Regions from separate parts of the Homo sapiens genome. Here region 2 is linked to region 1. A link means that fine-mapping ties the variant in region 1 to the expression of a gene that starts in the linked region. Tissue or cell type: skeletal muscle. Region 1 holds a variant in brackets; the other region holds the start of a gene. All regions are shown on one strand. Distances are from middle to middle.

Region 1 (8,117 bases):
AGAAGGTGAGCCCCTATGTGAGGTTACACAGCCCCTAAGTGGTGGAGGCAGGCTTCTAGAGCCAGGGCTGCCCAGCTCAGCATGCCATACGGGCCACCCGCACCACCAGGCTGAGGATGCGTACTGACAGCCTGACTTGGCTGTGGCACTGCTTCCTAATCCACGATCTCCTCATCTGTAAAACGGGAATAATAATTCCTACGTCACAGGGCTGTCGTGAGGATGGAATGGGATAGTGTGTGTGGAAGTGCTCTGCAAACTGTCAAACACTTCTAGAAACAACGGTCAATGCAGAACTCCCTTGAAAGCATACCTTGTTGCACTTCACGCAATGCTTGGCAAACTTGGTCTCATGGCAAGTCACGCAGTAGAAGTCCTCCCCTTTAGGGAAGAAGCTTCCAGTCCCGATGACTTGCTTGCAGTTACTACAGGTGAAGCAGTCTTTGTGCCAGACGGTCCCCTTGTACTCCACGTTTTGATCTCCTGCAGAGGGAAGCAATTGGATAGCCCCACTGACAGGCTCTGCAGGGGGCTGCATCCACTCAGCTCCCCTCCCCAGGCCCTCCAGAGGTGAGGGGATGCAGGCCCTGCAGTTACTGGCCTCACACCTCCAACTAACCTACCTGTGTTCTACTTGTGCTTGTGCCAACCCAGGATTTCTGTCATGGGTGGGGACCCCAGCATTATTATTTTAGGATCCAGTGCCTGAATCCCCCACTCCCCCACCTCTATACCCTGCGTGCACTTAGACATTAAATCAGGGACTGCCTGGCCCAGAATGACACCCTGAGGAAGAAGCATGCTTTCATCACTTACTACGCCCAAATGAGAAAGCGCTACATACTGTTCACTTCATTCTGTTGCCACAGGCTGTTCTCGCCAGTGTTCTTTAGTCTCCGAGTGTGTGCGTGTGTGCGAGCATATATGTGTACGCATATATACGTGTATGTATATGTGTACATATATATGCTAAGATCTCAAAGCAGCTCAGAGCAACGTTAGCCCCACCATGATAAGCAAGCCCACATCACGTCTGCCCTCAGGGCCTCCTCCCTGGGAACCCGGGGTGGGAAGGAGGCAGTACCTGCCACAATGGCCTTGAAGCACCCCTTGCACTTGGGGGAGTCCTCCCGAGTGGTGCACTTGTTGCACAGGATCTTGTTGTCCTTGGCCACAAAGGTCTCATTGGCCAAGGGGTGAAGGCACTTGGCACAGCGGAAGCAGGTGTCATGCCAGAAGCGGTTCTTATAGTGCACCTCCTGGAAACCAAGCAGACAGGGTGGGCCACCATGAGGGGTGCTGGGGGTGGTGGCAGGAGCCCTCCCATAAGGCTGATTTCCCTGGGACTGACCACTGAGATGACACAGTCCCTTACACCTGGGACTGCCCCACAGTGACTATTCTTATAGGAGGGACGCTGAGGTGAGGATAAAAATCTCACAATTCTTGAAATATTTAGAATGCAATCAAAAGAGCTGGCAAGGGCGCTGGCGCCCATCCAGTCAAGCCCCACATTAAACAGCTCGGGCCACTGTGGCCTGGGGAGTGGAGGAGGCTTCCTTGAGGCCTCAAGGTGGCTGCAGTGATGCTGGGAAATCCTAACAGCCAGCTGCTGCTGCCATGGTTGTGGGCAAAGGACACTCCAAAACCCAGCCCTTCCCATTGGCACATGGGGATGCCCGTTACCTTGGAGTCCGCACCGATGGGCTTGCGGCATTCCACACAGGTGTTGGCACAGAACTTGTCAAAGCATTTCAGGCAGCAGTGGTGGCCATCCTTTTGCACATACTTCTTCCCCTGCAAGGGATCCCTGCAGTAGTGGCAGTCAAACTTCTCCGCCATGGTGCCCACCTTGTAGCTGGAGGGACCTGCGGGGGCAAGCAGACAGGACAAATGACCACAGGAAATGCCCCAGCACCCTGAGCAGTGGCTCCCAGAGGCACCTGCACAATGCTGCCTTGGAGTCCATGGGGTCTGAGGACCAAGACCCAGCTTCCCCTTCAGCCGAGCTGACTACCAGGCACCAAGACAACAGATACTTCACTATGATTCCAGGAACAAAAGCACCCCGCGGGGCCAGATGGCCGATGGCTAGTGATTCCCTGGGGAGATGGTAGAA[G/A]CCCCTGCTCAGATATATCAACTGTGCTGATTCACAAAAGATGCGGAGCGGGGCAAGTGGATCAGAGCCTGTGTTGGCCAAGTCACCAGATAGGGGACAGGATGCTGGGAGGTATGGCTGAGCAGTGCTATTGTGCCATTGAGCAGTGACCCGATGGAGTGGAGGGGTGTGATGGGGCAGGCAGGCAAGAAGCAGTTGTTTTATACAAAGGAAGAGTGTGGGGCAGAGGCTCAAAGGGGTGCAGGAAAGCAGGGGCCCCGCCTGCAGGCAGCAGCTTCTCTAAGCCCACCACGTTGTCATCAAGAAGCCTCTCTGCCCGCTTTCAGCTCTTCCTCCGTCTCTTTTTAGGGAGGGTAGTATCCTCTGGAGGCCTCCCGTTCCTCCTATCTATAAAATTCTATTCATCAGAATAGAAACTGACAGCTCATTCTGTACCACACCAGGTACCTAAGCAATCCTTGTTAATTTGTTTAAAATGTTTAAATTTACTTGCAATTTAGCAGAAAAGTGTTAAATCCCTGAATAGATCCTAAAGAGTTTTGTCCAAGAGAGTTTACTGCCTTTTGAGGCCAGAGCAATATAGCAAGAGAGGACTTATATAAATGGCTTTGTCAATTGGCACAGGCAAGTTTGGCAACCTTGAATTATCTGTCATAGTCACGGGTGGCTTTGTGACCAAAATCAAACCCTCCCTTGAGTCAAGCAAGTGAGAATCAATATGCTCATAGAAGTGTAACCAGTATTACCATTTGGGATATTTGCTGTCTTAAAAATTATAATCTTAAAATAGAGTCTGGAAAAAATTATTCCAAGAATCCCTTCCACTCCCTCCGTATGAACAACCCCTCTTCCCTCCCTGGTCCCCTCCCCGGCTGTGGCCCTAGACAACACGCCTGCAATCCCAAGCATTACTAAGGCACTCTGCAGCTCCCTTTGCCAAGGCATTTCCTATAGAATCCTGCCACCCAAAAGGTACCAAATATGAGTTTCTATTAGCTTTCAACTTCTTTAAACATATGCTAATTTGTTCCTCTCCCCCGAAAAAGAAATTTGCACGGGTAAATAGATAGCAATTATTTCATTTGTGCAGGAAATACAAGAATTGAGACTACTTTCTAAAACTATCCACAAACATGGTTATTGTGCTAGCAAACTTCCAGCGTAATTTAGAGAGAAAGAATGAGAGAAAATAAATGAGCAGTTGCCTGGTACTCACCGCAGCTCTTCCACTAACTGAAAGCCCCAAAGTCTCACTTTGGGTTCCATTCCCAGGTTTTTTTTATACAAACACATGTCCAAGTTATTTGGATCTTGTTGCCATGAGCAACCAAACAGCAGAGAGTGAGCTAAGGAAACCACACCCTGTGTTTGAGAAGCCGCCTGGGCAAAGGCTGTTGAACTCTCACTCAGAACCAAGCCTCCAAACAAAGGAAATCAGGCCACTGGATGAGCCACAGGGCCTTCTGCCTCCTGCTGACACACAGACCCCCCTCATCTCTAAGGAGCTGGCAGATGAAGCAGATGAGTGACATTCTTGTGCAAGGACAGTTGCTTAGGACAGTTGTGTCACAATTAAGAGACTTAGCAAGACCAGAGAATGGTTCTAACTTGAACTTTTCTCTAAAAAGCAAACTGGGATGTTTCTTTATATAATGGGTTAGAAACAAAAACTAGAGACGCAATGGACACAGGGCCTATCTCCTTGAACTATGTACTGTTTAGGTAAGGAAGCTTTTAAACTGCTTTTAGCCTGTGTGTCTACAGAGAAAAGTACCTGTCCCAGTGACAGCATATGGAAAATCACTCTCTTTAATCCATTCTTGTTGGTCTTTCCAGTGTCACACAGAAGCCTCGTCTTAGCTTTGCCATACTGATAATATTGTGCCCTCAACAAAGACTTGCTTTCTTGTTAAGGGCTGAGTTGAGAAACCAAATAAATCTCCAGTAACGGCAAGTGGCAAGAAATAAATTATCAGTTGCTCCTAAATGCCATTTGGCAGGAAAACAGAATTTGTAAGATTAGACAGCACTGGCTTCCTGCATGGCTAGTAACCATTGCTGGTTTAGCCTTTCAGAGACTATCTTCTGGACCATATTTGAAAATCCCTCATTCTCTCTTACCAAGGTCTCTATTTAGTATACAACTTTGAACCTACTCGTTTTAGTATCACTTGCTTTTGATACCTTTATAAGCAGAAATTGATTCCAAATATTTCTAAGTTAAAGTACTATATAAAGTTCCACCTAAGGTGAGTCAAACCTCTTAGTATTTGAGTCCTAGCTTTATGGTAAGAAATACAGGTTAACTAGTGTCATACCAAAGAAAAAACACTAGAAAACACAATGAATGCCATTTAGAAGTAGAGGTTTTGAAGAGAAGGAAAACTGCATTATGGTTCAAAGTACCTGAGAGATCTTAACTGCCATGTTTTTCACACTTTAAAACCACACACTTTCAGTACTTTGATATTACCAGTGCAAAGTTCTTCATTGTTTAGTCTCATAGTTCTAGAACATGACTTGCTCAGAGTTCTAAGCATCCAGATGATAAAATAATCCACAGCTCACCAGTGAAGATAGAAGTAACAAAGGGTGTTGAAAATGTCAGACAATGAAGTCACTGGCCACTGTATCATTCCTATAGTACATGGTCTTAAACCAAGCAAAAGGAAAATTAAATGAATCAACCCCAAGTTAATAGTACCCATAAGAAGAGTTTCATCTCTTGGTATTTTTGAATCCTAGCTTTAGGCAAGATTTTTTCACTCTGAGTTTGAAAACTCTAGGGTCACCTTACACCTTAGATTCCCCACCACTCTATACTTAAACCTGCAGTCTGTATCCAGATGGAGAATCATTTCAAAGGGCATATTCTTTTAGAATACATTTCTACAATTCACTTGAGTCCTTTTAATGTGTGTGGAAACAATTAGTCTAGATAAAATAGGCACTTCTAGGAATGTTGGATTTGTTGCATAATAAGTAAACAGGCTAGAAATACTTAAAGTATGTTAACAATGTCTATGTCAAATTCATGAACTTTCGTATTTGTTTTGCAATAAATCAAATTAAGTGGAACTCTGGGCAACCTGAATTAGCTTACGTCACGTACTTCTAAATTTATGATTATTTGTTACAAAACAATTTCAAACCCTCATGCACGCAGTGTGCTCAGGATGAAGTTGGAGGAGATACTGATCACGTCACAATTTTGTATAAAATATGAATGATGTGCTGATGTGCACAAGACCAAAACAACTCTAAAAAGCCAGCTTATAAATGACAATGCTGAGACACACATGCAAAGATCCTGAGTGTGGGCTCCCTGAGTCTGAGCTACTATCAAGCTTTGACTTCATGAGGAGAGAAAAGCTTGCTCTTTCTTTCTTTCTTTTTTATTTTAGACGGAGTCTCGCTCTGTCACCAGGCTGGAGTGCAGTGGCGCAATCTTGGATCACTGTAACCTCTGCCTCCTGGGTTCAAGTGATTCTCCTGCCTCAGCCTCCCGAGTAGCTGGAACTACAGGCATGTGACACCACACCCAGCTAATTTTTGTATTTTTAGTAGAGACAGGGTTTCACCATGTTGGCCAGGATGGTCTCGATCTCCTGACCTCATGATCCACCTGCCTTGGCCTCCCAAAGTGCATTTTACAGGCGTGAGCCACCGCACCTGAGATTACAGGGGTTACAGGCATGAGCCACCGCGTCCATCCCAGCTTGCACTTTCTTTTGTTTGAAATGAGAGAATAGGGAAAAATGAAGATAGCATTTTACCTCTTTGTTGTTGTTGAGACAGGGTCTCGCTCTGTCACCCAGGCTGAAGTGCAGTGGTGCTATCCTGGCTCACTGCAACCTCCACCTCCTGGGTTCAAGCAATTCTCCTACCTTAGCCTCCTGAGTAGCTAGGACTATAGGTGAATGCCACCACGCCTGGCTAATTTTTGTATTTTTAGTAGAGACGGGGTTTCGCCATGTCGGGCAGGCTGGTCTTGAACTCCTGACCTCAAGTGATCTGCCCACCTCGGCCTCCCAACTTGATGGGATTGCAGGCATGAGCCACCATGCCCAGCCAGCATTTTACCTCTTCTTTTGGGCTCTCTTCAACCTTACAGAATTACATGTACTTAGGCATTTATTTCTTAGGGAATAATTTTTTATCCCCTTAGCTATTTCTAAGTACATGAAATGTGAAGGCCTTTAATCTTCCAGAACTTCTAGATATGTCTGCCTTGACCTATTGCTGTTATCCGGGAATGGGAGTGTCAGCCATCATTGAAGGAAACAATTGCTACACATCATCACCATGCTTCTTCCCTTACCACTTGTCTTTGTGGAGGGCATGTTTGCCCTCGGGCAGCTCTTTGACTAATTTTAATGTCTCGGTGTAGCCCTCATCTGTACATAGTAGGGATGCCAGAGTAGGTATTAGACATGAGCAGGGCAAGAGAGGGCCCCCCACCCAACCAGGAATGTCAGGCGGCCATCAGGTGAAGGTCAGATGGTTGTTAAACTATCTCTCGCTAAAATAATAATTGGTTGCAGCTGGCACCAAGGAAACACGGTCCCTAATAGACAGAAACACCTGAAACTGATGCTCAGCCACGTCCCCATGAGATCTCAGGAGGTGGGTAATTGGGCTCAAGCATGTGCACTAAGAGGCAAAATTGCGGTGTTTAACTGGTATAAGACCTACCTCTGGGAATGCTCTACTGCTAAGGGAAAAATCGCTTAAAGTAAGCATGCACACAACTTCAGTAAACACCACGCATGCGGCACTTCCCAAGTGCTGGCAGGCCACTGGGCATGCGGACAGCCCACCCCAAGGGAAGAATCAGGAGAGAAGTAATATAACACCCGAATCATGCCAACATATAAAAGCCCAGGTCAAAGGTCAAACCATGCACTTTTTGAATCTCTCAAGTAGCCTGCTTGGTCATCTTCTAAATGTACTTTACTTTCATTCCTGCTCTGAAACTTTATTTTATTTTTTGAGACGGAGTCTCACTTTGTCACCCAGGCTGCAGTGCAATGGTGCAATCTCTGTTCACTGTAACTTCCGCCTCCCAGGTTCAAGCAATTCTCCTGCCTCAGCCTCCCAAGTAGCTGGGATTACATGCGTGCACCACCAAGCCTGGCTAATTTTTGTATTTTTAGTAGAGACAGAGTTTCAGCATGTTGACCAGGCTGGTCTCCAACTCCTGACCTCAAGTAATCCACCCGCCTCAGCCTCCCAAAGTGCTGGCATTACAGGCATGAGCCACCGTGCCCGGCCTCCTGCTCTAAAAGTTTTTAATAAACTTTCACTCCTGCTCTAAAAGTTGCCTTGGCTTCTCCCTCTGCCTTGTTCTTCCTTGAGGAGGCAAGAAATGAGGTTGCTACAGACCCACAGATTCCCCGCTGCTAACATACTTTGGTGCCGAGTGACTTGGATACATTCCCTAGTGCTAACAAGTGGGGTTTCTCTATGACAGAAAGTTCTGCTCATACACTAGGGGGCCCCAGTACCTAATCCAGGGCTTTGTATACAGGAATCACTCAGTATATGCCTGTTGATTGACAGATGGAGATATGTTACCACAACTAAGTTTCTAAAACTTTGGTATGTGGATAGTCACTGAAAGTGGCTTCTGATCCAATTATCTGAGCCTCTATTTTGTCCATACCAACCCTATTTCAGGACCACACTGATTTCCTTTCTGTAAGGACTTCTTTCTTGGGCCTATTCTCCTCTGCTTTCATGGACTTATGAACCTAATGCAATATGACATACTATTTCCTGATTTTAAAAATCATCTTATATGACGTGTAAGGTGCTGAAGTCTAACCTACACCTTAGGTCCACATAAATGTCCCCTGATTTTCTAAGACAGAAAGCATCATTATTAAATAATTTAATTAAAAATTAACTAAATTAAAGTTTTACAAGCTTAGAATACAGTTAGAAATGTGGCTGGGTGATAAAATTTTAGACATTTATTCCAAAAGGGTAGCCTGAC
Region 2 (8,117 bases), 48 kb before region 1:
AAGCTACAACAGATGCAGGACAAGAGTGAGCGACGAGAGGAGAAAGAACACAAAACCAGAGCCTTGTCTCAACTGTGTATATGACAAGGAATCTAACAGGTCGTTAAGAATGGAGAGAAAAAGCCATCGCATGGCTGGTAAGCTTAAAACTCATAGTACAGGACTGTGGTGGTGGCAGTTTGCATGCAAATTCGCTAGATTGGTAAGCTCACTAAATGTTTATTATATGTAAGTTCAATTTTTTAAAAAACTTCATCTTTTAATAGAAACAAATGTGGCAATTTCTAGACCTGTTATGACTGTGGTTTCTGAATGTTTTTCCCAAGGGTGTAAGGTTTAAGGGGAAAAAATAGCCTAGAAGGAAGAAAAAGCGAGCAGGATTCCAGTTCTTCTCTGCTCGCTGGGGAACACATGCTTTCCAAATACGGGGAGGAGAGGAGAGGAGAGGAGCCGCCTGGGTTCTTTCCCAGCTCTGAGTCTGTTTTGGCTCCAGAATAAACTCCACTGTCCCCAAGCTGATAGCTTTCAGTTCCAATATTTTTTTCTCAGAAATGTACAGTCTCGTGGGAGCTCCTTGGTGAGCTTCTGTAGCCCCAAGGAAACATCTAAAGGGACCCTGATGTAAGTCATTAGTTTAGAGTCAATGAGATTGGGGACCCTAGAGGGCAGGGCTTCCTTCCATATGTATTTGTCCCCACACTGCTAGTCACAGAGTAGGTGGTTAATAAAAGATTAATTGAATAATTTACCTACTAAATGAATACTAAATCTCACAGTAATCTACCAATGATGTTAGAGAGAAAGAAGTTATATCTACAGATTAAAAGGCATATCAAATAATGCAATGTATGGACCTTGTTTGAATTTTTATTCAAAGATTTTTTAAATGAGGCAATTTGGAAATTTGAACACTGCCCTGCACCATGTTTTTTCTTTTTTTATTTGCTTTTTTTTGTTTGTTTGTTTTTGAGACAGAGTTTTGCTCTTGTTGCCCAGGCTGGAGTGCAATAGCACGATCTCAGCTCACCACAACCTCGGCCTCCCAGGTTCAAGTGATCCTCCTGCCTCCGCCTCCTAGTACCTAGGATTACAGGCGCGTGCCACCACGCCCAGCTAATTTTTGTATTTTTTAGTAGAGATGGAGCTTCACCATGTTGGCCAGGCTGGTCTGGGAATCCTGACCTCAGGTGATCTGCTCGCATTGGCCTTCCAAAGTGCTGGGATTACAGGTGTGAGCCACCGCACCCAGCCGTTTTTTTTGTTTGTTTGTTTTTGTTGTTTGTTTGTTTTTGTTTTTGTTTTTACTTTTAATGTCATCATTTAAAAATAGATTTTACATTAAGATCCAGATTTCGAGTTTATTTTGAAAAGTGGGAATATCTGGCCACAGATGGGCCCATCTGCCCACTCAGCGACCATGGGCTGGAATTAAGACGTGGTTACTCGCTTTTGGAGGTGGTTCCCACAGTCCCCATCTCAGGCCCAGAATAAGTGCTAATTCTTCCACAAAGACTTCTCTGATCACTCCAAACAGGACTGATTTCTCATCCCTTAGCCCTTGGAAGCCGTTTCAGTTACTCGCCTAAATCCTACTCATGCCACCTGTATGTGGTTATTCCTGGATGTCTTATCTCCCCTCTTCCTCCTACACCCTGGCTGGACTGAGGCCTTTAGAGGCTCTAAACACTGAAAAGACTAGTAGGGTGCCTCCCCATGTGTAATTCCCAATCAAATTTTATTTTTCAAAGTGACAGTGTTTACAAATAAGTTGAAGACAAACTTCTAGATTGAAAAAAACTCGGCTGGGCGCAGTGGTTCACATCTGTAATCCCAGCACTCTGGGATGCCAAGGAGGGTGAATCACTTGACCTCAGGAGTTGGAGACTAGACTGGTCAACATGGCAAAACCCCGTCTCTACTAAAAATACAAAAATTAGCCGGGCGTGGGGGTGCAGGTCTGTAATTCCTGCTACTTGGGAGGCTGAGGCAGGAGAATCGCTTGAACCCAGGAGGCGGAGGTTGCAGTGAGCCAGGACTGTACCACTGCACTCCAGCCTGGGTGATAGAGTGAGACTCCATCTCAAAAAATAAAGAAAAAATTATCTAACTTCTTATTTGGAAAAACCTCAAATCTTTACCCCTACATTCTTCAATATTTATGTCTTTTTTTGTGTTCGTGAGACAAAGTCTCATTCTGTCTCCCAGGCTGGAGTGCAGCAGGCAATCTCAGCTCACTGCAACCTCCGCCTCCTGGGTTCAAGCGATTCTCTTGCCTTAGCCTCCCGAGTAGCTGGAATTACAGGCATGTGCCACTACACCCAGGTAATTTTTGGGTTTTTGTCTTGTGTTTTTATTTTTTTCTAGAGATGGTGTTTCGCCATGTTGGGCCAGGCTGGTCTGGAACTCCTGAGCTCAAGCAATGTGCCGGCCTCAGCCTCCCAAAGTGCTGGGATTACAGGCGTGACTATTTATTTCTTAAGAAGAAGTGCATTTTCCTAGGTGACTACAACATCATTCCCACACCCAAGAAATTTGACCTTGATACAATATCATGTACCATACAGTTCATATTCAAATTTTCTAATTATGCCAGTAACGTATGCCCTTTCAAGCTTCTTTTAAAAATTAGGGTTGTAATCAAGGATCATACATTGCATGTGGTCTCTTTAGCCTCCTGTGATCTGGAACACTTCTCTGATTTTTGTTGTTAGTCTTTCATGACACTAATATTTTGAAGCATTGGGGCCAGTTATTTTGTGGACTATATCACAGTCTCTATCTCTGTCTGAATGTTTCTTCATTATTAGATTTGGGTTCAACATTTTTGCAAGAAACTACAAAGCTGATGTGTTTTGCTAAATTTTCTGTTTGCGGAGTTCCAGATAAGGTCATGAAAGCTGAACTTGTGTTTGTGTATGTGTGTGTGTTTTGTGGGCACCCTAATCATATGTGTGTCGTATTAATAATCATGAATGGCTACCATCCTGGATATCATGCAAAGCATTGGTCTCTGTATTTACTTAGAAGCAGAGCTTCGGGAGTTATAATGCCAAACTGTTTATTTTTGCCACTAGTTTTTTTTTTCTTCGAGACAGAGTCTCGCTCTGTTGCCCAGGCTGGAGTGCAGTGGCAGCTCTCGGCTCACTGCAACCTCCACCTCCCGGGTTCAAGCGATTCTCCTGCCTCAGCCTCCCGAGCAGCTGGGATTACAGGGGCCCGCCACGACGCCCAGCTAATTTTTGTATTTTTACTAGAGACGGGGTTTCCCCATGCTGGCCAGGCTGATCTTGAACTCCTGACTTCAGGTTATCCACCTGCCTGGGCCTCCCAAAGTGCTGGGGCTGGGATTACAGGTGTGAACCACCGTGCCTGGCCCCCCACTTGTATTAATCTACATCATCGCAAACACTTATTGACCACGTTTTAATTTTTGTTAAAATTGTAGGTGCAACGTAATGTCTTTTTTTTCTTTTTCTTTTCTTTTCTTTTTTTTTTTTTTTTTTTTTTTGAGACAGAGTCTCGCTCTGTCACCCAGGCTGGAGTGCAGTGGTGCTATCATGGCTCACTGCAAACTCCACCTCCCGGGTTCAAGCGATTCTCCTGCCTCAGCCTCCCAAGTAGCTGGGATTACAGGCACCCACCACCATGCCCGGCTAATTTTTGTATTTTTAGTAGAGTCGGAGTTTCACCATGTTGGCCAGGCTAGTCTCGAACTCCTGACCTCAAATGATCCACCCACCTCAGCCTCCCAAAATGCTAGGATTACAGGCATGAGCCACCGTGCCTGCCCCATATTACATATTATATATATTATATATTAATATATGTAACTTATGCTATCATTGCTAACATATGTAATATATGCTATTATTAGCTTCTTCCATTTTACAGCTCCCATGTCATTTGGAGACTCAGTGGTCTCGCCAAAGTGCCCATCTCACAAGTGGTCCAGCCCCATTTTGGGATCTCCTGCACCACACTTAATGGCCCCAACCATAAACTGCGTGCCTACAACTATGTCACTACACACACACTCACAACAGTGGTGACTCCACCTCATAAGGGCAAGCCCCCATGAAGTGAGGTCTGCCCCTTAAAGGAGCCTCAGGCCAATGACGGTTTTCCTTGTGAATGGGAAAAACATTCTGCAACCTGGTAGAGTCTCTCCCAAAATCCGGAGAGATTGATGCCAATAAGTCCTCTGCCTCTCTTTGAAGACTCACAAACATCTTAAAGATATTTCACCCAACTTTGAGACCTATGTGTCATGATTTATTGTGCAACAGTTTAGGGAAGCCTACTCATGATGGGGCCCCTAGCACCTCAAAGCAAGCCTGCGACTCCCAACCTCTCCCTAGGCTTCTTCCCCCAACTTGGGTCTTTCTTTGTGTAATGTTTCAAGGACTAGTAAACTCATGATACAAGCGCACCCAGGAGGCACGCCGTAAATGTTCTTTAAATGAATGAATGAATGAGGAAGGAATGTTACTGTGTTGCTAGGTAAAGGTGAAGAAAGGAATGTTGGGGGGGCCAAGCTGGGTGCTGATTGGCTAGTCCTCACAATGCAGTAGGGGCAGAGCACGGAACATAGGAGAGGGTTTCTTTAGACCAGGTAGTCGCTGCCCAGCCGGTCAGGACGTGGGACGCAAGGGGCAATCCTGCCCGGTTCGCAGGTCCGAGGCGGGCGCGGTGGCCCTTCGGGCCCCGCCCCGCCCCGCCCCGCCCCGCCCCGCCCACCGGCAGCCCGGCCACGACCCAAGCGGAGGCCGCGCCGACGCCTGCGCAATGTATGCGGAGAGCCACCACCGCCTCCGGTCCCGACTCCGATGATGGCGGACGGCGCCGCAGCTGGCGCTGGCGGCAGCCCATCCTTGAGAGAGCTGCGGGCACGGATGGGTGAGCGGGCGGGTGGCTCCCGGGGGTGGTTCGGGCCCGCGTGGGAGGCAGGGTTCCCGCAGTCCCCGGGCCGTCGGAGCGGCGCAGCGGGCGCCACAAAACTTTTCCCTGGAGTCGCCTCGTGCTATCTGGTCCTCCCCTCACCCCCGCCGGAGTGCCCTGGGATGGGACAGGGGCGGGGGCGGGGGGTTGAAATTGTCAGCCGACGCCGCGAGCCGCCTGAGTCCCGCCGCCAACGGTCGAACTGCCGCTGCCAACGGTCTGAGCCCCGCGGACGCGGCGCGAGGCAACTCACGGGCTCTGCTTCGACGGGCGGGGCGGGGGCGGCTGGAAGCCGGACCCCGCGGACCGCCCCGTGCCCCATCTGCCCTTGGGGGGCGGTGGCCGCCCGCGCAACCGCCCCAACGAACGCACAGCTGCCTGGGATGTGCGGGCGCCCGCAGGGACTCCGCGCGCCGGCGCCGCCTCCGCCGCCAGGCAGCCTTTCCAGGCACGGAAAGTTTGAGTTATCCCCCAGCCCGGGTCGTGGGCGAGTTTAGGCGCTTTTACTGTCGCAGTCCTTGCCTCTCCCAAAGGCTTACCTCCTGCACCCTCCCGGTCAAGGTCCAGGGAGGAAGCTGGGTGAGGGTGGGGATGCTTAAAAGTTGCTTTAAAAGTTGGGATGAAACTTGGCTCTTTGCATCTCCTGATTTGCCTGCTGTAGCACATGACTTCAACAAGATGTCATCTTCTGTGGGACATCTTGCAGTCTCTAGGCTGAACTGAACGGGAATCAGCACTTCAGAGTGCTTTTTCCTCAACTAGTCCCATCGCCAAAACGTTTTTCCCTCCTCGAAAACCGTTAATCTTATACAATTTGACAGCACATTGCTTGGTCCAGGAGACTGCTCCACTACCTGAGATAGGATTTCTTCCTTTCAGGAGGTTGCTTTTAGCCTGTTAGACTAGTTCCCTCTGCTATGAGCGCGAATAAAACGATTTTATTAATTTTAATTGAATTTCTTAGGGGTTTTTTTGCATTTGCAATTAAAAAGTTAGATTGTTTACGATTGGGAAGCTATATGTTACTTGAGAAGACTTTGAATCAGCTCTCCAAAGACTGTGTCAGAAGCATATACTACATACACTTTCACCATTCATTAGGGAGAAAAGAATCTTCCTTCCGTGTCTATACTTATGGTTCACCTAGAAAGACAGTCTCCAATAAATTGTGTTGCTTATTGGTACCTGTGGCTCTCAGGCACTGGTTTATTTCAGTGATTTAGATTAACCAGCATTACTCCAATATGGTGAAGAAGCTGTGAACCGGATAAACCCCTAAAAGCATTTGTATATCAGATGTTGGAAAGTGTTTTAAAATTATATATGGGACAGATACTGGAATTCACAGCATTTCAAACCAAAAACTTAAGAGCCATGTAAAAGTCTTAACCTAGGACCCTGGTTTAAAACCTTGCTGCCCACTTCATGTTAGGAATTGTAAATATCGCATGTTAGACTTTTTTCACAGAGCACCAACTTGACCAGAACTGCCCTTTAGATCTCAGCGTTTTCCTGAAGGGGTCAAGGAGACAGATGTTTTTGCTAAAATGTTGTTTTCATCTTCTGCTGGCAGTCTGGCAGCAAGAGTTAAAACTGTCTTGAATACATAACATATAAATGCATAGCACAGTCAAAATACATTTATTTTATACATTTATGTATGCATGCAATAGATACATGTATATATATATGTGTTACATATAAAGTGTAAATATATATTTGTTGAGTGATGTTTTCTGTGCATAGCACTGTGCTGAGGTTGTAGCATACCAAATATTTAACAAAACACGTGTTTATATTTTTATGCAGAATTGTTTTAAAATAAAAATTTATTTGAATATTTCAACCAGATGAGCATAAGAAACTTGCCACTGACGTATCACCTTTCCCTTCTTGTTTTTCTAAATTCACCAGTGTTTCTCAGTTTAGAATAACTTTTTCAAAGAATAATTTCTACCAATGCAGAAAAAGCTACGGAGATTGACAGCTAGATTATCATAGAATTTTAGAGTTGGAGAAACCTTAAGATGATCTTGTCAGGCATCCAGAGTCCCAGCTGTAAAATCCTGGGGCACTTCTGCCACTTGAATGGGCACTCTCATGAGGAGCTTAATATTTTTCCAAGTAGCCATTCCATTGTAGACAGCTCTAAATGGTAGAAAATTGTCTCCAGTTTTGTCTTCAAGACATGCTATCTTTGGTTTGAACTTGGAGGTCTTCTGAAAGTCTCAGCCCTATGACTTTGGCTTTTGCTATTTGAGGCAAAATTCTGTGAATCTGCCTGATTTTTATGGTTCTCTGATGGCAGATTTCTTTTCCTGTTATTTTTTCTTAATATTTCAAAATAAAGTTGCTTTGAAATTTACAGTTAAATCAAGTTCTGGCTTCACCACTTACTACCTGTGTGAACTGGGAAAGTTATGTTTAGCTTCAGTTTTTTCAACTATAAAAAAAATTGGGGAAAATAATTACGTCCACTTTATAGGATTGTTGTAAGAATTACATGAAGTAATACAAATGAACTTTGTAAATGGTGAAATGGTATATAATATGTGTTATGGAAGTTTTTAGAAAAGTTCTATAAATACAGATTAAGATTCATAATTCAGTTTTAGTAATACACTACACATTTTCTTATTTAATCTCTGGGCAAAATATAACTTTTACTTTAATTTTGGATTTAGAATTAGTATAAGGACTACAGAAATACCTTGCTGTTACTTTTAACTGAATATTAAGTAAATTCCCTCATTCATTTAAATGCATGTTAAGTAAATTCTTTCATTCAATGAAGTTGAATAAAATGTTGACTTTATTATATCCAGACATAAAGGTGTTATCCCATTTTCTGGACATTTTAAATAATTTTTAAACCCTGTCCTTTCTGTTAATGTATTTCTTACCAGTAGGAATTTGGATACAAAGGTCTAAAAATCAGATTTGATACTACTACCACATTAACCTTTATATGATTCGGTTCATTATTCTCACCACAGCTACTTCTAAGGTTATTTCTGTTTAATAAGATTTTTAATTAGCCTGGTAAAAGTATACTTTTTTTGAGACAGGGTTGCCCAGGCTGGAGTGCAGTGGGATGCTAAAGGCTCACTGCAGCCTCAAACTCTTGGGCTCAGCCTCCTGAGTAGCTGAGACTACAGGCATGCACCACCACACCCAGC

Alleles and levels. Alleles are on the strand shown, and positions count from the first base shown. SD is a standard deviation of normalised expression in the study named.
For the expression in skeletal muscle of the gene that starts at base 4,785 in region 2, allele G in region 1 goes with a lower level than allele A (small effect, 0.31 SD a copy in GTEx).

Evidence for each region. PIP is the estimated chance that this variant, and not a neighbour inherited with it, causes the effect.
Region 2: MAP7D3 starts here. The variant in region 1 is fine-mapped to the expression of MAP7D3 in skeletal muscle (GTEx, PIP 0.92).

Annotation. Positions count from the first base shown.
Region 1 is chrX:136,200,158-136,208,274 of GRCh38, reverse strand. FHL1 (four and a half LIM domains 1) reads right to left here. Exons shown (of 6, transcript NM_001159699.2): 2 at 1,687-1,868; 3 at 1,085-1,259; 4 at 314-483. Among named protein-coding and RNA genes, the nearest start is that of FHL1, 7.2 kb to the right of the region's middle. The variant G/A (reference allele first, on the strand shown) is at 2,120.
Region 2 is chrX:136,248,068-136,256,184 of GRCh38, reverse strand. MAP7D3 (MAP7 domain containing 3) reads left to right here and starts at 4,785. Exons shown (of 19, transcript NM_024597.4): 1 at 4,785-4,896. The coding sequence starts at 4,827. RefSeq lists a silencer at 4,679-5,068.